5 separate regions of the Homo sapiens genome follow, and regions 1, 2, 4 and 5 are each linked to region 3. Evidence: fine-mapped expression QTL. A gene starts in region 3. Each other region holds a variant in brackets. All regions are shown on one strand. Distances are between the middles of the regions.

Region 1 (5,084 bases), 950 kb before region 3:
GGTCCGTACTCCCTATAATGAATGGACCGTGGCTTACTGGTCCATACTCCCTACAATGAATGGACTGTGGCTTCCTGGTCCATACTCCCTACAATGAATAGACTGTGGCTTCCTGGTCCATACTCCCTACAATGAATAGACTGTGGCTTCCTGGTCCATACTCCCTGTAATGAATGGACCGTGGCTTACTGGTCCGTCTCCCGACAGTGAGGCTGTTTCCAGTTTCTCACAACTGCAGCTGCTCAGCAGCCCTCTGCCCGGAGCACAGCCCCTTCCCCACAGCAGCCTTCCTCCCTGACCCAGAGGCCCATGTCCTCTTCTTTCGGGGCTCTTGCCTCTGTCTGTAATCCTCCAGGTGGGAAGACTCCTAGGTTGAGAGCAGGCTCCCAAGGTCACCACTGCAGCCCCAAGCCCGCTCGGCACCAGGCAGGTACTGAGCCTCTTTTGATTGACAGATGGACGCAAGAGAATAATGGGAGTTGTGCACTAGGCCTTGACCCTGTGCCAGGGACAAGCCAGGATGGCCTGGGAAAGCCCTGGCACTTGGTGCCCAGGGGGCAGAAGAGCAAGCTGTGAATAGCTAGACCTGTCCGTGGGGTGGGCCGAGGCCCTGGGGAACTTCTGGACGTGTCAGCCCAAGTCAGCTGTGACCAGACACAGGGGCTACCAGGAAGAGGTCGCCCCTGCCTCCTAACCTAGCATCGTCACTGGCCTGAGGAGCAGGTCCACTGCTAACAAGTTCACCATCACTTAGGGAGCCCTCCTCACGCCAGGCACTTCACACCTGGAGCAGGCACCAACCCTTTCTAGAAGACACTGAAGGCATGCAGCTAGTAAGTGGCAGAGCAGGATTCCAAAGAGTGCCTGGGTCATCTGGTTCAGAGAAACGGATGCCCACGCACCACACCCACCAGTGTCTCTCTCTCCTGTGGCCTCTGCTAGGCCAGAGCCAGGCTCAAGCCCAGCTCAGCCAACGCACATGCCTGTTTCCTCCTGCCATGACAGAATGGGGCAGCACAGCACAGGCTCCACCTGGGAACTGGCAGGAGACATCTTCCCAGGAACAAGGCCAGGCCCCAGCCCAGCCAGGAGATTGAAGGTGGTTCAAAACACAGCCCATCTACAGAATTCCCCAAACTTTAATGCTGTGCTCTGAAAAGGGAGGCTGGAGGTTGTGGTGGGACACAGTGTTGCTGACACCTCTGGCCTCCAGCCCTGCATCCCTAGGCACCATGTGACCAGGCAGTGAGAAGGACGGGGCCTCACTCCCATGCCAGACTGCTCCTCGGGCTGAGCAGGACCTGAAGCTCTCAGGGCTTCCACCAAAGCCCAGCAAACTTGGGGGAGGCCTGAGGGGGCATCAGCAGTCCTTAAAGGCCTGAGCTTGCAACACTCAGGCAGGACTCGGCTGAGGGCCTCTGTGGTGCCACCATGGGGTAGGAGGTAAAGAGAGACCCTGGTTCCAGCCTGGGAACCAGTGGGTGCCCTGAAGGGAGGGGAGGCCTCAGGGAGTTCGGGACAGGAGTGTGCATGGTACTGGGCGGCCCATGGGGGCTCCTGGCCTCTTGGTTCAGGCAATCCCTGAGCTGGGGACACATTCCATCTTAGGTCCAAGAGACGGAGGTCAGGAGCATCCCTAGAACGACCTCCCAGGCACGAGGAAGGCCCGGGGCAGGGCCGGGCGCAGCGTGGCTGGCTTCAGTACCCTCGGGCATCTTGACTCCTGCCCTCTGGGACTGCAAAGGGATCTGCGGGCGCCTCTGCTGAGTCAATCGTCTGGTAGGCACTACGGTCCTGAGAAGACCCAAGGAAACCTAGGTGACAGGGGACATGGTGGGAAAGAAAAATGAAGGGTGAGAACTCGGGATGTTCAGCTGAGTCCAACCCAAGATCCACCCCCGCCACCCTCGGGCTGGGCATCCTGACACCATGCACAGAGACAGAGGCAGCAGCCCCAGGCCCTAAACCTTTAGCGTGTATTATTCATTCAATCCTGCCGTATCCCTGTGCGACGGGTATTTTTATTGTCCCCACTTTACAGATGAGGAGACTGTGGGTCAAAGGGATGAAGTGACTTGCCCGAGATCACACAGCTCAAAGCTGATGATGCTGGGACCCACGCCTAGGCAGCCGAGTCCAAAGCCAGGCTCCTGGCCCCTGTGCCATGGGCTTCCCCAGGCAGCACGTGCTTAGGAACCTGGGCAGAGGGACATCAGCCCCGGGCCCACGCACTCCTCTCCAGCTCCCCTCCCAGGTACAAGGACACCACATTACCATATCCAGATGGCCTCGGAGGCTGGGGCTGGGTCCAAGGCAGGGCCGTAGGGCTCCGAGTACGCCACATGCCTCACTCCCATCCCCTACTCTGTACATTCATCCCGGGACCCTGAACAAGTCCCAAAGGATGTGGGCCTCAGTTTC[C/T]TCATCTGTCCAATGGGAGAAACATTCTGGCACCCCTCACCTGGGGGCAGGCCCAGGCAGTGCTGAGGTCAGCCACTGTGGGCAGCCCCAGGCCATTCCCACCCTCAACCAGCTGGTGGCAGTCACAGGCCACGTGGGGCATCTCATCTCAGGAGTGAAAGGCAGAAGGCCACACCCTACCACCTCCCTCCACTCCTCTCAAAGAGAGAGAGAAAGGAAGAGAGAGAGAGGTGTCAGAGAGCAGGCAAATGGCTCGGCCACCAGGAGAAGGAGTACAGGAGTTCAGAGAGGGCGTGGGAGAGGGCAGGTGTAAGGCTGGGTGAGTGGGGAGGGGCCGGTGGGCAGGGAAAGTGCCCCCTGTTCAGGGCTGTCTTCACTGAGGCTCCCACAGCCTACACTGGCACGGGCTCTGCCCTGGCCACCTAGCAGTCTCTGCAGCAGGAGAGGGAAGACCCCATGTGGCAGGAAATGGGGTTCCAGTGATGGGCCCCGGTGAGAACAGAGAGGAGACCTGTAGGTGCCCGTGGCCCTCAGGATGGAGACAGCCCAGGGCTGCCCCTGGGAACTAAATGGTACCCCCAGCTGTGCCTGTGTTCTGGGCTGAGAGAAGGGCCCAGCCTCAGCTTCACAGCAGAAGAAGGTCACGGCAGACCAGGACAACCAGGGGACCCCTGGGCTCCTGCAGCAGAGACTAGGAGCTTGGACCTGTCCAGCCTAGTACAGAGCGCCCATGCCACGCTCTCCCTGCACCTTGAGCCCTGGCCCCATGGGGCAAGGCTGGCTCACTGAGGGAGAGGCTGGAGGCCAGGCAAGGGAGAGAAGGGAGCGGTGAGGAGCTGGCTGGAGGTGGTGGCCTCACCAGTGTGGACCAGGAGCTCACCCCCGCGCTCCCGGTACATGTGGTAGACGAAGCAGCAGGAGAGCGGCTTGAGCAGCAAGCTGAGGATGGCCATGCCCACGCCAAAGCGGCCCGTGTCCGTGAGGCTGACCCGCGGGTAGAAGATGCTGATGTGCACGATGTCCAGGAAGATGGTGGCCAGCAAGCCACCCAGAAACTGCAAGACACACCACACTGATGAGCACAACACCCCCACCACGCTCCGTGGCTCCCCCGCCACACACCGGATGGGAAGCCGTTTCATGCCCTGCTGTGTCCTTGGGGCTTGCGGGAAAATGGATCAAGCAAGCAGGCAGGGCCCCGCTGGGGAGCCGCTGGCTGAGACTGCAGTCTGGGGGCAGGGATGCCGGGGGCCCAGGTCTCGGTTCCACCAGAGCCTCCCTCCCCACCCATTTCCCGTCATCTCCAAGGCCATGATGGGCACAAGACTTGGCTCTAGAACCTCCATAGAGGAAGGTTCCTTGGAGTTCACCCAGTCCTTCTCCAACACAAAGAAAATCTCTTCTCAGTCATCCTGAGGCCCTGGCCTCGGCTTGAAGAGCCCGTGCGGGAGTGCTCACTGCCCCACGGGGCTCCGTGGGTGCTGAGAAGCTCCCCCTGTGGGAGGTTTCGGTGGGGCAGGGTCACCTCTACTTCCTAAAGTAGTGAAATGCCCTCTTGGCCGGGTCTCCCAGCCATATCCCCTCCCCTAAAAGAGAGCCGCAGAGGGAGGTTACAGGGGATGTTCCACTGCTCTTGCGAAGTGGCTAATCCGAGGCACTGGTGGGACCCACCCCATGGCTTTCCTCAGGGAGATAATGGCAGACTTGGGGTTCTCTAAGCCAGACAAGAAGAGCAGCAGGCTGGGCTCCTGAACACAGGCATGGGCCGGAGCCCAGGAGGCTGATGAACAGGCTTTAGACAATGGGAAGTGGTGGCCCAAGGAAGAGGGGGAAGATTGGGATGGGACGGGGTAGCAGAGCCAGGCTATGTCTTGCCCTGTGCTGCGGCTCCCCGCCTTGCCGCCTCTCCCCCACCCTGGCTCACCATGCTTATGGCGTCGATGGAGTCCCGCTGAGCCACAGCCCACACGCCCAAGGCCAGGATGGTGAAGTTGGCCCAGGCATAGGAGCCTGAGAATACAATGCAGCCCCTGTAGGAAGAGGTAGCTCAGTCCCGTCAGGAGGCCACCACCCCGCAGGTCACCTCCCTCCTGCTCCGGCGTCTCAGGGCCTCCTCCCAGAACATGCCATAGTCTTCGAGGCCACCCGGCTGTGTGCCAGCAAATCCCATGGGCTCCGCCTCCCACCCAGACCCTGGATCTGGCTGTGTCCCTGTAGATCCAAAGCACCTCCCTCTCCTGGCAGATGACAGCCGCAGCCACCCTGTGCCAGCGTCCTGACTGCCACTCTGTTCTCTAAACAGCAACCGGTAACGTAGTCAGATGCTGTCACTCCTCTGCTAAAAATCCTCCAACAGTTTTCTGTCCCATTTGGAATAAAATGCAGACTCTTCACCAGGGCCTAAGGGGCCTGTGGGATCCCGGACACAGCCTCGCCCTACTGACCTCCCAGCCACTGCCCTGTGCGGCGGGCGCCCTCTACCCTGACACCTGGCCCTCCTTTTGTCATTCACCCTGAGACTCGAATGTTCACCCTGAGACTCCTTCCCTTGCCCACCGGTGCTAAGTACAAGTTCGTCACTTTCCTAACACAAGGCCCGCCCTATTCTATTTTTAGGGTACTGATACTGACATTGTTGACTTACTTGTCAATCCAATCAAAAT
Region 2 (5,100 bases), 100 kb after region 3:
TCCGGCACCGGGCGGCGGGCGGCGGGCGGGCGCACCGGGCGGCGGCGGCGGCGGCGGCGGCGGCGGCGGCGGCGGGGCCGCGCTCTGCTCTTTCACCTGCCGGGGCCGGCGCGGGCCGGGCCGAGGAGGCGGCGCCGCGGCCGCCCTGCCAATCACCGCGGCGCCTGGCAGCGCCCCCGGCCGCGCCCGCCCGCCCGCTCCCTCCTGCCAAACTGTTACCCTGAGTGTTACCGGCAGGAGCAATGACATCAGGGCTTTAAAACAACTTGTTATTCGGGGAGTAATCAGTTGCAATTAGGCATTAATTAAGTATTATGAAAGTTGATTATTTAAGTGAATTCGGCTTTCGACTCTCCGACTATGGTGAGTACCGGGCGCGGGCGGGGGAGGCCCGGGGGCCGCGGTCTCGGGCGGCGACCCGGGCGCGGGGCGCGGTCGGCGGGACGGGGGCGCCCCTGGGCCTCGCGGATCCCCCGGCCAGGGCCCCCAAGCCGGGGCCGCGCCGGCCGAGAGTTGCTGCCTTAGTTGGAGAAACTCAGGCGGCGCGGACCCGCGGGCGCGTGCGGGGCCGAGCGTGAGAAGCGGGCGGCGCGGAGGAGAAAGTTTCTCCGCCGCGGCCTCGGCGCCCGCCCGGGACGGGCCGCTCCTGCGGGGCGGGGGACAAGCAGGGCGGGCGGCCGGGGTCCCGCGAGACGCTAACCCCGTGTTTCTTCTCTCCCGGTCTTCCCCTGGTGGCGTTCTGCGAAGAGTTTGGGACCAAGGAGAAGAGAATGGATCTTGGAACAGGTACCGGCCGGTGGGAACGCAGGGGCGGCTCTTTCACTTTTCTTTCGCTTCTTTTACGGAAGTTCTTATTTTTAGCCCAATGAGGTGGCGGCGGGGCCGGGTGGGGGCCGGGAGGGTCGGGCGGCTGCCTCCCGGCGTCCCGGCCTCGGGATCGGCGACTTCTGAGGCTGTTGTTGTTGTTATTTGCCACTTGCTTAGAGGCTGTGACTAATGTGATGCTTGTCATTATGAAAGAACCGAGAGGAGCAGGAGCTGGGGGGCACCCAGAGAGAGGATTTAGGGGGTTTTTGTGGGGTTTTTGTTCTCCGTGTTTTTTGTATGGCTTCGTGTTTTTTTTCTGTGTGTGTGCCTTTTTTTTTTTTTTTTTTTTTTTTTTGTTCTCTGCAAAGATCTTTGTGTGTCTGGCTCTGGGGTGTGTGTTTTTATTTTTTTAGTGGGGGGTGGTTTAGTTTTTGAAAGCAGCGTCCTGTTGGGAAAGGTGGTTAGTCTGGTTTCGGGGCGACTGTCTCAAGGTAAAGGAATTTAATTTATTTGGGACAAGGCTGTGTCGGATGATCAAGCTGCTTATTATGGCTAATGAGTATTTTTCACCTGAGAATCTGTGGGATGAGGTGGCTGTTATCAGTTCAAAGTGAGGGGCCCCGGACTGTCTCCCACCTGCCTCTTTAGCCCCCACCCTAGGGGTGGTGATGGACCAGACAGACTACTCAACGTAGGCATCTGGGTTTGGGGGCCTCCTGTGGGACAAGGCCGGGGGCTCCAGGAGGCCTGGTGCTCACCTGGGGCAGTTTATCCTGATATTTTGGTGTTTTCTTGGGTTTAATCTAATTCTTTCCAGTGTTTTTGCCTTCAGCTCTTGCGGGCTTCCCATGGGCCCTGGCTATTGAAACCAAATTTTGACCAGGACCCTCACGTGCTAGGTTGACAAAAGCAGCTGTCTTCTTAAATGTTTTAAAAGAAACAAGCAGCCCGATCATTCATTGAGACTGATCTCTGAACTCTCCTGGTTCATTGATGGGATAGGTGATACTGGTGGCTGTTAGCGTTGTTGTTTATAATAGGCCCAAGTTCACAGCATCGGCCCTTGGGACCCATGAGCTGATATCTGACCTTCTAAAGGTCAGTGGGCAGAGAGACCGGAGGCAGCCCTGAGGGGATGAGGATGGGTGGCACGGTGGCCGGTGAAGAAGGGCCTGTGTTTGTTGGGGGGAGGTGTCATTTGCAGAGTTTGAGGACTGTGTGACACCAGGTGTGATCTTGGCTGGTCTGACGTGGAGGGCCTGGGGACCTCTGCGCCCGGGAAGGGTGTGACACCCCCTGCTGGGCAAAGTGGTAAAGGTGTCTAAGGCCAAGGCTGCCACCCTGCCCCTCCCTGCCCTCCACTCCCACAGAGAACCTGCCTGCCCCCACCTCCAGTCGGTGTCTCATCACCTCCCTCTCAGGCCCCACCCCCTTTCTTCGGAAATGGGGCCCCCACCCATCCCAGCCAAGAAGCAGACCTCAGAGATGGGCCTGGTGGCAATGCACCACCCCTTACCTGGGGCAGGAGAGCCTCTGCTTGTGGGCCAGCACACAGGACCCAGGCATTGCAGAGCTGGAAGGCAGGCCCTCTGGTCGGCCTCCTCCTAACCTGGGTGCCAGCTGGAGCCAGCGTCCATCCTCCTGCCATCCACCAACCAGTCCCTCCAAGTCTGTCGTGGGGACAGTACTCCAAAGCCCTTCTCTAGGGTGTCCTGACTGGAGCGAGGGCCTCCCAGCCCTGGTAGGAGGCAGGTGGCAGAGCCTCTTGTGGCTTCTCTCCTGGGCCTTAGGGAGACTGACTTCTCCCAGCACTCCAGGGACAGGCTCTGGAAACTTTTCCTAGAAGCTAGAAGGGACCCTGAGGTCAGCTGCTTCCTCCTGTAGCTGGAGTAGAGCACTCCCAGTGGGACTCAGGCCTGGACTCTGGCCACTCAGAGGGGAGGCCCAGGGTGGCAGAGTTCTGACTGTTTCCTGGAGGAGTCATCTGGTGATACCATCTCAGTCTCTTCTTTGAACTTGGAAGTTTCACTTATAATCTCAGAACTTCAGAAGAAAAGCAGTCTTCCCCCCACTTCACCAAAAAAGGGAAGCAGATGAGGACGCTGAGATCCCCTCTGAGCTGGTCCCTGGGCTGACTCCATGCTCATCTTCAGGAGCTGGGAACAGCTCCCTCAACTTCATAGTGCACACGGCATACAGCTGGGGCCATGGGCCTCGTCTCTGGCCGGGGCTCGTGGCTGGTGAAGTGAGGGTCCCTTCCTCTGGGGCAGCGTGGGCAGCTTCAGCCGAGGGCCTCTCTGACATAGTCCAAGGCCAGGGGCGCAGGCCTC[G/A]AAGGGCTGCTGGCATCATGGACCCACCATGCCTCCCTGATCGTAGGTTAACATCCCCGCGGCCCCGGACACATCTAGGTCCTGAAGGCCTTCAGCCATGAGGAAGTCAGTGGTGGGAGAGCCAAGCCTTCTCAGGAGGGGACAGAAGGACCTCAGGACCCTCAGGGGCCATGTGGACCCCCTTTCCCCCACCATAGTTCAGCCAAGGGCTGGATCAATCTGGACGTCTTTAGCAATAAAAAATGCCGATGTCGTCCTAATTCACCAGGCCCCGAGATGACAGCAAATTTACATTTTTTAATTAAACTAGCAGCCAGTTTTTATGAGAGGGGGTTGGGTTATGCAAATCAAATGGTTGTGTACGGAAGATTAGGAGAGTTTGGGAATAAATTCCACAAATGCTAATAAAAAAAAAAGGAAAGAGAGGGAGGGAGGGAGGGAGGGGAGAGAGGAAGAGAGGAGGACATAGTTCCATTAGGCCCTTTTAGAGTGATTTCCCTGGGGGAGGGAGCGGGAAGGGGGGAGGGGAGATGGGAGGAAGCTTTCAGACACAGGTACATCCATCCTGCAGTTGGGAAGCTCCCAGGGTTAGGTCCCACCAGGCTGATTCCCAGGCCCTGAACACAGCTAGAAGCCAGGGTGAAAATGGCGGTGAAGCACGGGTGGAGCTCTGAGCAGGCGTTCGCCCTTGACTCGTGGGGATCTGATGATAGTTGCCCCTTCTCTTCTTGAGACAAAGGGGTGGGGCTGTCCAAGGCGCGGAGGAGCCAAGATAGGCTCTACAAGGTCAAGGGCCAAAGAGGCAAGAGGGCAACTTTAAAGGGATGGCCACGGACTGCAGGGGGTGCCGGTGAGGGACAGTGCTGCCCATGTGTCGCTGTGGCTGCAGCCTTGTCGTCGAGGCGGGTCAATGGGAGGAAGCCCGGCCGGTTTCTTTCTCCTTCTGGGGCTCCAGGCCAGGACCCCCTTGCATTGCCAGCAGATCCCCCATCGCAGACAGCCCAGGCCTCAACTGTGGGGAGGCCAGGAAGCGTGGGATCAGAAGCTGGGCCAGGCTGGCTCATTTTCCTGATTCTCAGTAGCCCCATGCTTTGAGAGCATACTGTCTTGAGGTAGGCCGCAGACTTCTTCTAGACGGTGTCTAAGCTGAGAGAGCAAAGAGCTTGGCATCCCCAACCCAGCCCCAGTGTGTGCTGCTCAGGCCCCTGCCCTGAGTGTCAACCACCTTCAGATCAGACCTTCCATGAGCTGCCAGGTCAAGGCCAGAGCCTTGCCAAGTGTGGAGGCTTCTAGGAACCTCACTAGCTCTGGTTACACCTTCGACCTGCCAGGCACCGGGGACTGAGAAGGTTCCTGTGCTGTACTGGAGGAAGAGATTCCACGCCGGGTTTAGGGCAGAGCAGATTGCTCTCAATTTCCTTCCTCCAGCCTTTACTTGGCCAGATACACCCACTCAACCAGTCTAAGCTGGGGCCAGCCCCTGTAGCCAGGTTGGGCACCGGTTTTGCCAGTCTGCTGCAGGGGGTAGGTGCTCTGGGGCCATCTTGGCAGAAAGGAGCTGTCAGAGCCCGGGACAGAATGGGCCATCTCGGAAGTCATGAGTTTCCTGGTACCATTCAAACAGAGGTTTGTGCTGTGCACCGGTTAGTGACATTTAGAGGGACTTGAGCATCAGATGACCTTTAAGATCTTCAGCTGTCTGACTCCCAACTTGATTTTGTTCAGTGGGGCAGTCCTGGCGGGTGGGAGTAGGGGGTGAGTGGACGAGGTGAGGAGCACATTATTTGGACCTTTTCTTTGGTGGAGAGCATTGGAGACAGGCAGCTCTGGGCTGTGAAGTGACCCTTTGAACCAGCCCTGGTTCTAGTTGCAAGACGTCAGAGGAAACTGAGGCTAAAAGGCCTAGCATAGCCTTTCCTCCCCAACAAGAGGCAGAGGCAGAAGGGCAGGTCCGAAAGGCTCC
Region 3 (5,100 bases):
ACTTCTCGGGAGGTGGGAGAATTACGAAATATTTGAGAAAAAAATGGAGGGAGGAATACACATTTTAATAAAAGTTTGGTGGGTGACGTGGCTGTTGGAGACGTTGAGAGAGGTGGGAAATGGTGTGCGGGAGGGCATTATAGTGGGAAAGGGGTAGGGGTGAGCCTGATAGTGAGAAGTGGGGTAGGCCTGATAGTGGGACAGAGAGACAAGTGAATTCTTCCCTAGCCCCTCAAGGGCAGGCTTTGTCTCATTCATCTCTGTCTCCCCAGCACTGGTGGAGATCTGCTCTTCCTCGGAGCTTAGTCATCCCTACCATATGAATGAATGAGTGAAGGACTATTGTTGGAGGGGGAAAAAAAGGACAAAGGAGAAGGAATGGAGAGAGGATGGAAAGAAATGAGAAGTAAAGGGAGCACTGGATGTCCCAAGGAGCAATGACAATTACTGGCATTTATCGATCAATATCTTGGCCCAGGCCCTTTTCCTGCATTAACTCATTTTAGCTTCTCAACAATCCCAGGCAGTAGGTACTATTATTATCCCCATTTTACTGTGGAGGCAACTGAGGCACAGACGGGTCAAATGCCTTCCTCAAGGTCACCCAGCTGGTGGAGCGGTAGGGTCTCACCCCCAAGCCCAAGCTGCTAACCCCTTCTTTACGCTGCCCCAGGAGTGGACTCAGCCGTGAGCCAATAAGGTAGAAGAGCTACCTTGCCACTTCTCAGGTTACTGCCCCTCACTGTGCCTCAGTTTCTCCTTCTGTAGGATGACAAGATTGGGCTTGAGATCTCTGGGGCTGTGCATCCTGCTAAGTCACCAGGCACAAGGGTCTTAGAGATGGTGGGTGAGCCCTCAACCCCTGAGAGCTGAGAATGCCTTGGATGGTGGGGGCGGCAATGGAGAGTAACCAATCAGTGGTCTTTGAGGGATGTTAATTATCGTTGTGTTGCTGCTTCCAGTCAATTATTGGGATAAGGAGGGGGGAAAACAAAATGAACCCGAAACATGTGTCTAATGTCTAAATCTGGCTTTCCTGTGTGGACAGATCCTGAATGGACCCCCAGAACTATTCCAGGAAGTGAGGAGCTGGTTTTTTGAGCTGGTTTCTTCCCCAGTCCATCTAACACAAGCAAATATCACTGAGTATCTAAGGAGTGTGGGATGGCTCAGCTTCCTCTCCCAAATTTGTTGGCTTTATTAGGGCACAGGGCAAATCCTGGCCTCCTCAGGGCCAGAGGGCCATCATGTCTCCAGTCTGTGTCCATATGCTTCTGGACAATTAACTTCCAGTTTAAGGCAGGACATGGGAATGCATCCCGGAAGATGCTTGTCTTAGACAATCATCATACAGGGTTTTGGGTCGTTTCTCTGGTCCTGAGAGGCTTTCCTGACACCTTGCAGATTAGGCTCCAAATACTACCAGCCTGCAACAATGTTTACCAGCCTGTGGCATTGCCTCTTAGTTTAATGCATTCTGTTGAGCAGGGCTTGAAGCTGTGGGTCATACTTTGAATTTATATTCATTTATTCCACAAATCATTGATCTATTTCGTTTACTGTTATGGTCAGTTTCTCACTTATCTCATCATCTGGGTGTTTTCAGTTTCTTTCATGCCTCTCGATATTTCCATCCCACGCTTATGCTGAAGGGAAAAGCAGCTCAGGCCTGGAATGAGGGGTGCGCTTGCTGAGAAAGGCAAGACCAGAGCTACAGGGCCTCAGCACTGAAGCTGACTACTAGGCTCAGCTGGTGTGGCCACCTCAAACCAACTGGGAAATGGGAAGTCTGGGTATGGGAGAAAAGGGGGTTTCTTCAATAAAGTATGAAAGTGCCCCTCAAAAGGCCCTTCCCCCCCATCTGGGGGCAAGGGGATTATCTCTCGCAAGACACTGCTTTGTTTTGTTTTGTCAGAAATGAGGTCTAGCTATGTTGCCCAAGCTGGTCTCGAACTCCTGGGCTCAACCGATGCTCCTGCCTCGGCCTCCCAAAGTGCTGGGATTACAGGCGTAAACCACCATGCCGGCCCCCAAGACACTTTTTAGCCTATTGCCTTGGTTTATTTTCTTCATGGATACTTTCACTCTCTGAAATAACATTATCCACTTGTTTTAATGTGTATTATCTGCCCCCCCCCCAGCCCCTCCATGTAAGGTTCATTCTGCACGGCCTATCTTGCTCACTTAAGGATTTATTTCTTGCACAATAGATTGAATGAAAAACTCCCTTGCAAAGAATAAGTGCAAAGCAGATATCAAACAGTGAGAACATTTCGTTCCTTTGGGTTCCACAGTTCTAACATTCTAACTTGCAAAAAAGAGCCAGTTCTTCTGTCGAAAGTGGGAACCGAACTCGGGCTCTCTCGGGGTTCAGAACAGGTGGAAAGTAACCCCCCCCCCCATCCCTTCTCTCTTTTCCCCTAGCCTCAACTCAACTCAGCTGGGGGGGGGTGTAGAAGCCTCTGGACCTGCAAAAGGGGGCCGAGCGCTCAGATGCTCCTCCGCAGGCCGTGCGACTCGCCGCGCGCACACGCTGAGCTCAGCCCGGGCGGTGGGTGGGAAGGATCCGGGAGGGGCAGGTCTGGGGGTGTGAGGGTGGAGCGGAGCCCGGCCCCGCGATCCGGCCCGGGTTTTGCATGCCACCCACTCGCCCGCCCGGCCGCGGAGAATTCCATAATCACAGCGGGCGAGAGCGGAGACTGGGAGCGAAAAATCCGGGATCCGGCAACTTTGGGCAGCGCATGCGCGCCCGCGGCGCTCCATCCCAAACACACACACATTTTTCCCCCGGACTTGGAAAGTCACCCAAAGCCGCCCCAAGTGCAGGTAAGAGACTCGGCGCTCCCTCCGCCGCGGCCCCCCCACGTCCCCCAGCTCCGCGGGCCTCCCGGGGCGCCTCCCCGTCTCTCCCCCTGTCCCGGTGCACCCCCCCCACCCCCGGGGCTGCCGCTTGCAGCAGGGAGCGGGCGAGCGAGCGAGCGAGCGAGCCAGCCAGCCAGCCTGCGATCGGCGGCTGCCACCCAACTCCGGCCGTGCGGAGGCAGGGGGCACGGAGGGCTGGCACCCGGGCGCGGGGCGGCGCGTTGCCTGCCGTGGCCAGGGGAATGCCCGGCGCGCGGCTCCGGGGGAGGGGAGGGCTGCTCCTCCTGGGGGTCGCTTACTCCAACTGAGGGGGTGGCGGGGTAGGGGAGAAGAGAGGGAGGTGCCAGGCGCGAGCACAGGACTTTGCAAATAGGGTGGGGGCGCCCCACGCGCTGTGGGCTCCCGGGGGGGCAGGTGATCTCCAATACCGGGTAATCACTCCTTCCCCTTAAACCCCCACCCCACCCCACCCCCCAGCAGCAGAGGGGTCGTGCGCTCTCCAGGGCAGAGAAGGAGGCGGGGTGAGGGGTGCCTGGGGTGACTTTGCAAGACTTTGCCCATGGGAAGGGGTGGGTGGGGAACCCCTCCAGCCGGCTCTTGTGCCCGGATACCGGGTGTAGGTGCTGCCAGCAGAGGTAGGCAGTGTTCGCTTAGGCGCGGGGTGCCAAAGGGTATCCCCCATAGGAAATCGAAGGCAAGAGATTTCTTAGATGGGGGGAGCGGCGCCCCCTTTTTCATCTGTGCCTGGGAAGTTTATCTCAAGTGCGCTGCTCCAGGCGCGGCAAGTGGCGTTCCTCACTCCCTTCCCCACCCCACCCCCTGCCTCCCCAGCTGAAGGGCTGGCAACACAGGGCACGGGGAGCCGGGGCATCGGCCCAGAGCTGCCCGGCTGTCGGCTGGAGCCCGCCTGGGTCCCGGGGAAAGTTCGGGCGAGTTGTTGCCGGCTGTTGTGTGCGCCAGAAGAGAAGTTGCGCCCGGGGACGTGGGACGCTGGGCTGGCGGGCTAGCGGGCTGGTAGAGTGGTGCGCTCCGGGGGGGCTCTGCAGCGTGGGAGAGGGTCGGTCGGGGTCTGTTCCCCCAGGGTGGGCTGAGGGTGACCTCGGAGCTCAACAATTGGGGAGGAGGAGCCCTGAATCCAAGGGCACAGGGCTGAAATAGGCACCTGGTGAAGGACAGAGAAAAAAGTAGTTTGTGGGGGCGCAGGGAACACCAAAGGGAGAGAGCCGGTTTCCCGGTCACTTAGGGTCCGGCTTAACGGCAAAGGAGAGCGTGGTGACTGACGGAGGAGCGTCGGGGAGCGGGGATCCAGGGGGCGCGCGGGAATGGGGGATCGGGCCAGACCGAGTCAGGGATCTCCCGGGGCAGGGGGCCGATTCGTGCGCCCGGGGTGAGCCGGACGGGCGGAGCGGCGGCCGGTTTATTTTTACTCGGTGGCATTTGCAGAATGTGCAGCTGATGGCCGTCGGCCGCCAGGAAGTTTTGCTTTCTGTTCTTTCTCTCTCTTTCCGAAGCCAGCACTGCCGGGAGCTGGCGGGCCGGGCAGCCGGGTCTGGAAGGGGAGGGGGCGGCCGCCGGGGTGGCGAGGTGCGGGCAGAGGCGCGCTGGGGCCGCTGGCGGGGGCTGGCCGGGCGCGGGCGGGCGGGCGGTTGCTGGGCCGCTGCGGAGCGTTTGGGCGAATGTCTGTCCCCGGCGCTGGAAGCTCCTCCGCGAAGGGAACAGGTGTATGCGCCGTCAATCACGGCTGGAGGGACACTTTGGGGGCGTAGATTAAGATAATAATAATAGATTTTTCTCTAAGGGGTGGGCGCAGATTCTTCTTCCAAGTCATCCCCGACCCGGGTCCGGAGTTGGGGGAGGCTAGTGGAGCGCTGAGGGAGGCAGGGGACCCCCTCTTCCTCCACACAAGTTCCTCTGCCCCAGCTTCAGCTTGGAAAGCCGGCTCTGGGCGCGGCGAGGACCTCCTTCCAGCCACGCTGGCTACGGTGCGGGTGCGGGTGCGTGCCCACCGGAAAAGCGGCAGTAGCGCCTCTCCTGAGTATGGAGCTCCCCCAAACCTGGATCACTGGGCCACGGGGCGGAGTGTGCGTTTCTGACCGAGTGGAGTGTGGGGGTGCGGCCCTCATTGTGCGTAGTTGTCCCGCCGACACCCGGTACACTCAGGGGGTGGCGAGGGGGAAAAGGCCCTGGTAGTCGCGGGGCAAAGTTAGTAAATTTAGGACGTCTCCGAGCTGGTACAGG
Region 4 (5,100 bases), 210 kb after region 3:
CTTTTTTTTATTTGTTTTGAGACGGAGTCTCGCTCTGTCGCCCAGGCTAGAGTGCAGTGGCGTGATCTCCACTCACCGCAATCTTTGTCTCCCAGATTCAAGCAATTCTCCTGCCTCAGACTCCGGAGTAGCTGGGATTACAGGCATGCACCACTGCATAGAGACAGGGTTTCGCCATGTTGGCCAGGCTGGTCTTGAACTCCTGACCTCAGGTGATCTGCTCACCTCGGCCTCCCGAAGTGCTGGGATTATAGGTGTGAGCCACCACGCCTGGCCTTCTGATTCTACTTTTAAGACCACCTTGTCTGGTATTACTACCGAGTTTCTTGTGGTTAGTGTTTGCATGGTGTATCTTTTTCCATCACTTGACATTTAATCCTTAAATATCTTTATACTAAAGGTGTGTCTGATGCAAGCAGCATTGAGTCTTTTAAATCTAATCTTGACCAACTGCTTTTAATGGAGTATTTACTCCATTTATATTTAATGTAAATGCTGAACTTTGGGGGTTTATATCTTTCATATTACAATTTGTTTTCCTTTTGACCTGTTTAGTGCTCTCTTTTCTCTCCTGTCTTCTTTTTAATTCAGTTTTTCTCTCTATTACCTTGTAGTCAAGGTGGTTTCTGATGGATTTCTCTACTGCAAAGTTACTATCTTTTCTTTCAGAGTTAATAAATAGCTCGGAAAAGACACTTTGCTCTTTCTCTTGAAACCTTCATCTCATTTTAGCACCCGTCAATGGAATTTGTCTGCAACAGTAATTACTGGATGTTTGCCTAATGGGAGATCCTCAATTAAGGGTGAAAGGGGTCCTGAGACTAAAACACTTGCGAACCAACGCCCTAGACATCACAATATATCCTTTACTTACTATAGTGTGATATAAATGAGAAATTTTACTGTTCCCCCAAAGATCCTCGCACATATAACTTTCCCTCCACCCCTCCTTTTGTGTACTGGCATGCATTTCAATTATAATGTATGTTAAAATCCACAAGAAAGACATTCTTATTTTACACAGTCAATATTCGTTGATATGTGTCCTTTTGTTTGTCCTTCATTCTTTCCTGCCATTTCTATGTTTCCATGTAAGATCATTTTCTCTCTGCCTGAAAACTCCTTTAGTGTTTCTTTCAGTACAGTGTGCTGGTGATGAATTTTCTCTTTTTGTTTGCCTGGAAATGTCTGTATTTTCCTTCACTTTTAAAAGACATTCTGTTATGAAATAATTTCTGATTTACAGAAAAGCTGCTGAAAGCATAGTACAAAGAATTCTCATATATCTTTCACCCAGGTTCTTTAAATGTTAAATTCATCACACTCGCTTTATTATTCTCTATTGATCTGTCTATATGATTACTTTCCCTGAACTGTTTGAGACTAAGTTACAGACATCACACCCTACCCCTTAAATATTTCAGTAAGCATGTCTTAATTTGGGGTGGGAGTCGGGGAAGCTCATGCTTGTATATAACCACAGAATAATTATCAAAATCAAGAAGTTAACAATGTTACATTTATATCTGTAGCTCAGATCTTTCCTCTGAACTTGATTCATAATATCCCTCTGCCCACCTGATACCTCCACTTGGATGTCTGATATCTCAAACTTAATACGTCTAACACTGAACTCCTAATCTTGCCCCACCAAACTGCTCCATTCCTAGTTAATGACAACTCCAAACTTGTAGTCACACAAGGCCAAAAACCTTGGAGTCATCCTTAATTTCTACTTCTCTTTCATATCCAGATCCCACAAATCAGGCTATTCTATTGGATTTACTTCCAAAAAAATATCCAGGGAATCTGATCACATCTCAACACTAGACTAGTCTCCCAGCTTCCACCCTGGTGATCCTATTAAACCTTACATCAGATGGTATAACTCCTTGCTTAAAACACTCTGATGATTTTCCATTTTACTCAAAATAAAACCAAAGTCCTTACCAAGATACTGTTGCCCTACACAACCTTACTCCCTGTGAATGCTGTGACCTCGTGTCTCACTGCTATCCACCTGGCCTACCATTCTTGTTCCTGGAATTTGCCAGACACAACTTCCTCTTCAAGCTTCTGCATCGGTCATTCCCTTTTCCTGAAACTCTTTCTACCCAGAAATCTGCATGGTTTGCTTCCTC[G/A]TTTTCTTCAAGTTTTTGCTCAAAATGTTATCTTAGAGGGGCCTTTCCAAACCATCCCATTTAAAATAGCAAATTCCTAAGAAGAATCCTCTATTGCTCTTACTCATGTTTATATTTTATTCTATTTACTGTCTTCTCCCTCCCACTCTACCATTGCATTTGGGGTTATTTTATTCACTGCTATGTTCCTAGTACCTAAAACACCTAGGTTCTACTGGCACCTAGTAGGTATTCAATAAAAATGTGTAAAAAGCCAGGCGTGGTAGCTAATACCTGTAATCTCAGCACTTTGGGAGGCTGAGGCAGGAGGATCACTTGAGTACAGGAGTTCAAGACCAGCCTGGACAACATAGTGCAACCTCACCTTTTTAAAAAAAAAAAAAAAAAAAGCTGGGTGCAATGGTGTATATTTGTAGTCTCAGCTACTAGGGAGGCTGAAGCAGGAGGACTGCTTGAGCCCAGGAGGTCAAGGCTGCAGTGAGCCATGACTGCACCACTGCACTCCAGCCTGGGTGACAAAACAAGACTCTATCTCAAAAAAAAAAAAAGTGTAGAAAGAATAAATAAACGGAAACCCCAATATGTAAAACAGACAAAAGTAATGTTCAGGTTTTGAGAGGTCCGGAGGGGTACGGAGAAAAATCAGAGTCCCACCTTCTTGATTCCCTCTTTGCCCCTGAAATATCTCCTCAGAATCTCCAAGAATCCCCAGAGGTAAGTATAAAAACCGTTACCAGGCCAGGTATGGTGGCTCATGGCTGTAATCCCAGCACTTTGGGAGGCCGAGGAGGGACAGATCACTTGAGGTCAAGGAGTTCAAGACCAGCCTGGCCAACATGGTGAAACCCCCGTCCCTAATAAAAATATAGAAATTAGCCAGGTGTGGTGGCAGGCGCCTGTAATCCCAGCTACTCAGGAGGCTGGGGTGGCAGAATTGATTGAATCCGGGAGGCGGAGGTCACAGTGAGCTGAGATCGTGCCATTGCACTCCAGCCTGGGCTACAGAGTGAGACTCCATCTCAAAACCAAACCAAACCAAACAAAACAAAATGCCTGTTACCATATATTCACCCTGTACTAAATAAAGCAAACTAGTTTATTCATCAGCCCCTGATATGCCTTATACTCTGGAGAGAGTCAGGCATCAGTCTTCCACCCCTGATGTTCCAGCCATCAGAGTAGCTTCTTCCCAACCCTACTCTGAGCTTGTCAGTTGTTCCGGGTTATCTCTTCCATCACCAAAGCTCCTCTGTGATCACCCTAGGTAGAAGTACTTTTCTACAGCAATTACTATCTAGACAATACTCCTCTGGTTGTCAAACATAGATGGCTTTGTAACCTTTCTTTTATCTTATATGGTTTTCTGAGGATTTTAATGGTGTTGAACTTTTATTCTCTGCCTTATTCATTACTGTATCCCCAAAACCTAAAATACTGATCAACCCATAGTGGTCATTCACCAAATAATTGTTCAATGTGTGAATAAATGTGAATAAAGCACACTGGTGCTTCATGAATTGCAGATTTTCAATAGCTGTAAGATATATTTGTAGTACTTCATGATAATCCCTTTTTTCCCCTCTTAAAAAAAAAAAGCTGTTTATCATAAAACTCATTATCACTGTCATCATTAACATTTAACATTATTCTTGGAGTTTCATCCTATGTAATAAAGCAGGAAATAAAATTAAAATGTCTATGAACTAGAGACAAGTTTACAAAATAATCAATTGACCATATACCTATAAAATTTAATTTAATCATGAGAAAGTGGGATGGCAAGATATAGTACATAAAATTAAAAATCAGTAGCACTCCTATGTACCAGCAATAATTAAAAAATAAAATGAAGAGAAATTCCTTTCATAATAGCCATGAGAAATATAAAATTACTATAGTCTTACAAAATGTTAGATCAGTATAAAGAAATGTTGCAAAGAGAAATAAAGGGAGACAAACGAAAAAGCCTTTCAAATTATTTTATTTTTATTTTATAAATTATTATAAATTTATAAATTATAAATTAAATAAAATATAAATTATTATAAACTTATAAATTATTTTATAAGTTTAACACAATTTCAATTAAAAAATCCCAATTATTTTAAATTATCTCAGATGTTCCTCAAGCTTATCTGGGAGAATGCACAAATAAGAATAACAAGGATTAGCCAGGCACGGTGGCTCACGCCTGTAATCCCAGCACTTTGGGAGGCCAAGGTGGGTGGATCATAAGGTCAGGAGTTCAAGATCAGCCTGGCCAAGATGGTGAAATCCTGTCTCTACTAAAAATACAAAAATGAGCAGGGTATGGTGGCGGGCGCCTGTAATCCCAACTACTCGGGAGGCTGAGACAGAGAATTGCTTGAAACCAGGAGACACAGGTTGCAGTGAGCCGAGATTGCACCACTGCACTCCAGCCTGGGCGACAGAGCCAGACTCTGTCTCAAAAAAAAAAAAAAAAAAAGGATAACAAAGATCCTCGTTTAACACCAAGGTCAGAGGCAACAAGAATGGAAACAGGTTTCATTCTGCCCTCATGGGATTCCAGACTGCTCTTAATTTTCCTTTTCTGACTACCTGCCATGTAGACTTCAAGCTCCAGCCTCAGACGTGGCAACAGCATACTATTTCCCATTGGTTCTGCTTCTCTGGTTGAACCCTTCCTGAGACAGAGAAGACTGTTCTTTTCCTTTGTCGCTCATATCAATAGGACACTTATTTGTTAATTTATGTGTCAGCTGCTTCCTCCACTAGAAGCATAACATAGTGGTTAAAAGCAAAAATTAGAAAAAAAGGTGGCTTATGTTTTAATCCTGGCTCTGACACTTAATAGCTATGAGTCAGGTCCTTCATCTGTAAAATGGGAATAAAGTTGTTATAAAGATTAAATAAGGTACTACTTTTATAGATCAATGCCTGGCATATATAAGCAGCATATGAACTTGATGAATAAAAA
Region 5 (5,100 bases), 120 kb after region 3:
ACCTCGGTCCCTTTCCAGGTCTAAAGTTCTGTGCACCTAGGACAGCCTCCACCCTGATAGCTGTCCCCTGTCCCAAGGTGCGTTGGACCTAAGTGCAGGCTGCCCTCCTTAGCTCCGTGTCCAGCCAGAGCCACTTGCCACACCCCTGCCATGCCCCACACACAGGTTCTAGAAACAGTGGGTCAGGACGAGCAGCTGCTTCCCTGTTTGCCCACTTTAGACGTACCCATGAGAAGGCCCCTGTCCCCTCCTGCCCTCCTCGGTGCCACCCAGACACCCTCTGCCTTGCCCTCTGTCAATCCTTCCCCTGACCCTGAAGGTGCCTTCCCCTGCCCCCTCCTGCTCCAGCGAGGCTTTGGCGCTGGGTGACTCCGTCTGCCTCCTCCAGCAGCGAGGGAGTGTGAGCTCCTGGCGTTCCTTCCAGCCTGAGCAGAGCGGCTGGAGGCTTGGGAGGCATCACCTGCCCCCTCCTGAGCTCTCTCTGTCTCGACCCTCCACTCTGCCCTCACCGTGACTCACTCATCTTGGAGGCGGGGGGCGATGGAGCCCCAGGGGGCTCTGCCCAGGAAAGAGGGGGAGAAAAGCTGCTGGCTTTCCTTCACGTCCTACGTGCCAGAGCCCAGGCAGCACTGAAGTCTGTGGGGCCCTGCACCCCCTGACTGGCTGTGCCCACAGGGGCCTCAGCGAGAGGCAGTGGCAGAGCCAGGCAGTATGGGGTTCAGCCCGGACAGAGTGCATGCCCTTGATACCCGCCAGCTGCCAGGACCTAGATCCCGGGAGACAGGATGTTAGAGAGAGTCTCTGGCCCAGCCCAGCATCTCTTCTCCATGCAGGCTTCACAGAGGCTCCTGCTGGCCTGTGTGGCTGGGACGTGGAGGAACCAGCAAAGGCGTCCACGTCAGGAAACTGTGGGGCTGCTCGCCCCGGGCCAGGGGCTCGTTTCTGAGCTGTAGGCTGGTCGAGGGCAGGCACCAAGGTGGAGGGAGGCCTGCTGTGGAAATAGGATCCCAGGGCACCCCTAGGCAGGTTGGTCCACCGAGGCACAGAGAGAGATGGAGAGGCACAGAGAGAGATGGAGGAGCCCAGGAGGAGAGCCCCTTTGTTCAGAGGATGGTGGAGAGGCCTCCCCGGGGGCTCTTGGTGTCTTCTTTGTCCTGGTGGGAAGAGCCTGCATTGGGGATGTTCTGTTGAAAGGTCACCTTTTGGGGCTAACGCTGTGTGATGGAGTGAGAGCTTTGCTTCTGTGGTGGCTCTCCTTGGAGAGGAAGGACAGGGGTGAGCATGGGACAGGCAGGGGCCCTCCCTCAACGTGGCCGACAATAGCGGGAGCCCAGGGCTTCCGGGAGAGGGAATGAGAAGCAGCATGGGGGACGGGGGTCCGGGCCAGTCCAGCAGGGCCTTGGTGTCTGTCACTTGGTTGGCATGGGTTTGTCACCACCCTGAGATCACACATTCTGTGTGACCCTCAGGGGTTCCTGCTGTCCCTCCTTCCTTGGCCCCCAAGCCTCTGAGCAGGCCTAGGTCCAGGGGGAGCCCCGCCCTCTTCCTGGGGCCCCTCCCTGGCTGCTGGGGTTGGGCGCCTGGTTCATCCTGACTGTCTCTGCCATCCCTGGCAGGCAGGTGTCTGAGCCCCTGGGATGGAACTTGAGGGAGAAGAGGCAAGGCTGAGGGTAACAGGCCTAGCCCTGCCCATCCCAGGCAGCTCTGGCCCGGACCGGCCTGCCAGGCCAGCTCCCTGCAAACCTTGGGGAAAGAGGACTTTGCCGCTGGGGACCCACCTGGCCCAGGAAGCTGGCCACTTTCTCCCTTTGTTGGGGGTGGGGGGGGGGTCATGTGCTAGGCTGGCTGGCCCCCGAGTCCTTACCCATGCTTAATAGGGGCCAGGAGAGTTCCCATAGTGCCCTGGCCACAGGATCCAGAGGCAGGGGTAGGGGTACCTGCCCA[A/G]CTGGGAGAGGAGCCCAGAGTGGCTGGGGTCCAGCCCCAGGAATCATTAACTGCAGGGTCTCCTAATGCCCGCAGTGTCGGGGGACCTGGCACCTCCCCCAGCCAGGTCCGTGCGGAGTTGGCCGGATGTGACCGAGGCACTGGGCTCCCGGAAGTGCCTGAGGCTGAGCTGGGCACTGGCCTCACCCCTCTTGAAGCCTCCCCACCCAGGCCTGTTCCCTGCCCATGCCAGACCACCCCGCCTGCTCGCACTGTGCCCACCCTGCCACCCCAGGACCCCCATTCCTTCCCGCCAGCCTTGCCTCGGGGTTTCTGGCCCTTTAGGCCTCAGGACTCCCTGGCTCGACCCTGGCCCCGTCCTCTGTCCCCACTGGCTTCACAGTCACATTTTGCTGCCAGCGCAGGGCACTGAAAAACTGCTGGCACTGCCAAAAACCCTGTGTGCGCTACGACTCCCCAAACATCCCTTTATTTTTATTGTTCTGTTAATTACTGTTTAAACTTTAATAAGTCACTTCGTCAGGAGGGGGGACCTGCCGTGAGCTTTTCTGTGCAAACATGGGCCGGGAGTGACTCGGGTGTAATATAACCCTTTATGCGATGTGGGAATGTTTAGATTGTAACAGAAACTTGTTATTTTAATGACAGTTGGTTGCGGGGGGTATCTGAGCACAGAAAAACAGGAGGGGTGGGCGCTCCCCTTGCATCCCCACGGAGGGCTTGGGGCAGCCAGGGCTGCTCCCCTGCTGCCACGACAGAGGGCCCAGGGACCCATGGGGACCTTCTTGGGCTGCCCACTGGTCAGCTCCAGACTGGGCCTGGATGGCTGGGGCAGGTGAGGCCCAGGAAGAAGTTGGCTTTAGCGGGGATGGGAGCAGGAGGCCTAGGGCAGCTCTCAGATCCCCAGGCAGAGGTGAGCAGGGCCACACGGGGCTGAACTCCAGGTCCGCGGTGCCCTGCAGTTACCAGGCAGGAAGCAGTGCTCCCGGCTCCGAGGAGGGGACTCTGCCCACAGTCACCGTGGAGCATCAGGGAGGCACCGTGTGCTCTGCAGCCCCAGCCAGACGTGTGCCCACATCATCCCCTCAGCAACGCTGTGTTACAGTTGGGGACCCGAGCCCAGGGCAGGGAAGACGCTGAAGTGATGAGCTTTCCAAGGGGCCAGGTCTCTGGAGTCGATTTGTCTTATGTGGAAGTTGCCAAAGCCCAGGTGCCCCACGGTGGCCTCAGAGGGCTGGACGCCCTCCCGCAGCAGCGGTGCCGGGGAAGGCTCGGACCCCACGCTGGATTCAGGACTGTCTGCGTCGGCTGGTGGGGGCTTGGGCCGGGCATCTCTCAGGTTCCTCTTTGCCTTCATCAGGAGAGGGAGCAGGCAGGTGAGGCAGGGTCACCCTGAGACCTGGAGGCACTGGCCCTCCTCTTAGAAGGTCTTCCCATCTCCGGGGAAGTCAGGGGCTCATGCCCAGGTAGGGGTGATGGTGGCCAATGCCCTGACTCTGTAGGAAGAGGCACTTCTGCACCAGAGCTGCTTCTAGTGCAGGGGCACCTGGGGAGGGCATCTTGCCCCAGCATCTGTGGGGCCCCTACAGGCACCTCAGGATACCTTAGGGCCTGTTTCCCTGCCTTGTCGCCATTCAGTCCATCTGTCAGTCTGTCCGTCTGCATAGCTGAGCTTCTGCTCTGATCCAGGCACTGCGGTGGCAGGGATGACAGAGGCCTGCACTTGCCCTCAAGGGCTAGCCCTGGTTGGGGTTAGTACAGGCCATCCAGAGAGGGCAAGGAGGGCAAGACCCAGGGCGCCTGGCCTCAGCCCGAGGCATGGATGGTCCTGTTGAGCCAAGGAGGAGACCCTTACTCTCTGGGCTCTCCTGCCCACGGAGGGTCCACATGGAAGCTGTCCTGCCCTCGCCCCACCTCCTGCTGGCAGGGCCAGAGGTTCAGGGACCGGGTTCCCTAGAGCTGGAGGTGAGAGCCCCCCAGATGGTGGCAGCAGCATGGGCCACGAATCGCTGAGGTTTTCCTTTTCCAAGCAGCGCGTTTCCCTAAATTGTCTTTGACTGCGTGCATGGGTAATGAAAGTTTATGCCCTTGTTAGAAGGACAGGCGGCCAGTTCCAGTTAGAACTGGGGCTGTCTCCCTGCCAGCCCCCTCAGCCCCCCTCCCCAGCAGGAGAGAGGCAGCGTGAGCACAAGAGTGCGAGAGAGTGTGTGTGCGTGCACGCGCGTGTGTGCACACACACAACCTCCCCCTCCCTGGCGGATAAGAAGGCTGTTAGGCGAAGGGAGAGGGGACGAAAAAAAATTTCCATATTTGTGTAAGTTGCTTTAAAAGCATTTTATCATGTCATAAAAAAGGGAAAGTACTCTCAGAAATTGATCCTCTCCGCCAGCCCATTGGACAGAAGGACGTTGGATGTTAATGGCCATCCTGCTCCAGGGTGGCTTATTAAAAAATTTATACATAAATGCTTAAAATTGCATAAATTATTTAAAAAAACCAACAAAGTAAGCAATTTGAATTCCCTCTTTTCCTCCCCTTCACTCGGTCCCCCTTTTCCAGCCCCTCCGCAGGGCCCTCCCGGTCCCCAGGCTCCCGCCCCCCTCGGAGCTTTTCCCCTCTTTTCTCCACTCGCCACTGCACCCCAACGCCGTCCACCGTGCCTTCCTCTGGGGCTTCCCTGCCTCACCCACAAATTAATGGAACCGCCAGCCCACCTCCAAACACTCACAGGCACACGCGCTAATAAAAACACCACTAATAATGCCCCAAATCGCAAAATTAAATATTAAGGCCAAAGGAGGCGGACGTGGAACGGAGCCGCCGCCACCGTCGCCGAAGTTGGAGCTGATGAGTGTGTCTCTCGCAGGCGTGGAATGTCACCCACACATCCTGGAGACTGGAGTGGGGAGTTTTATGATGGTTTTTCATTGATTTGTTTCCCCAGCGCAGCTGCCGACCTCTATTGAGGGACAAACATAATCAGCACTGACGCAAATTAGATGGTTATTCGTTTTGAAAATTGACAGAAAAACAATAAAAAAGATGAAATGCTCCCAAATCAATAGATATAATGAAATTCAAATAATCCGAGAGATGAGGTCTCCATGGCAACTGATAATGTGGAAAAGAAAACAATTTAATAAAGGACAGACACAC

Which allele goes with the higher level. Alleles are on the strand shown, and positions count from the first base shown. SD is a standard deviation of normalised expression in the study named. Not every link is listed here.
For the expression in visceral fat of the gene that starts at base 2,744 in region 3, allele C in region 1 goes with a lower level than allele T (moderate effect, 0.55 SD a copy in GTEx).
With allele G in place of A in region 4, the expression in monocytes after LPS of the gene that starts at base 2,744 in region 3 is lower (large effect, 0.83 SD a copy in Kim-Hellmuth 2017).

What was found. PIP is the estimated chance that this variant, and not a neighbour inherited with it, causes the effect.
Region 1: its variant is fine-mapped to the expression of CASZ1 in visceral fat (GTEx, PIP above 0.99).
Region 2: its variant is fine-mapped to the expression of CASZ1 in whole blood (TOPMed, PIP above 0.99).
Region 4: its variant is fine-mapped to the expression of CASZ1 in monocytes after LPS (Kim-Hellmuth 2017, PIP 0.95). The same link has a PIP of 0.9 or more in monocytes, monocytes after muramyl dipeptide and monocytes after triphosphate RNA.
Region 5: its variant is fine-mapped to the expression of CASZ1 in whole blood (INTERVAL, PIP above 0.99).

Annotation. Positions count from the first base shown.
Region 1 is chr1:11,746,807-11,751,890 of GRCh38, reverse strand. It overlaps AGTRAP (angiotensin II receptor associated protein), which reads right to left. Exons shown (of 5, transcript NM_020350.5): 3 at 4,346-4,451; 4 at 3,281-3,476; 5 at 1,122-1,814. The coding sequence ends at 1,699. Among named protein-coding and RNA genes, the nearest start is that of C1orf167, 13 kb to the left of the region's middle. RefSeq lists enhancers at 2,353-3,029, 3,030-3,706. The variant C/T (reference allele first, on the strand shown) is at 2,422.
Region 2 is chr1:10,689,560-10,694,659 of GRCh38, reverse strand. CASZ1 (castor zinc finger 1) reads left to right here. Exons shown (of 21, transcript NM_001079843.3): 4 at 748-786. The coding sequence starts at 771. Among named protein-coding and RNA genes, the nearest start is that of CASZ1, 100 kb to the left of the region's middle. RefSeq lists silencers at 62-231, 532-621. The variant G/A (reference allele first, on the strand shown) is at 3,138.
Region 3 is chr1:10,794,290-10,799,389 of GRCh38, reverse strand. CASZ1 (castor zinc finger 1) reads left to right here and starts at 2,744. Exons shown (of 21, transcript NM_001079843.3): 1 at 2,744-2,826.
Region 4 is chr1:10,580,814-10,585,913 of GRCh38, reverse strand. The region is part of intron 3 of PEX14 (peroxisomal biogenesis factor 14); the gene reads right to left. Among named protein-coding and RNA genes, the nearest start is that of PEX14, 110 kb to the right of the region's middle. The variant G/A (reference allele first, on the strand shown) is at 2,142.
Region 5 is chr1:10,672,522-10,677,621 of GRCh38, reverse strand. All of the region lies in intron 4 of CASZ1 (castor zinc finger 1), which reads left to right. Among named protein-coding and RNA genes, the nearest start is that of CASZ1, 120 kb to the left of the region's middle. RefSeq lists enhancers at 406-1,194, 1,195-1,985, 4,561-5,100. The variant A/G (reference allele first, on the strand shown) is at 1,945.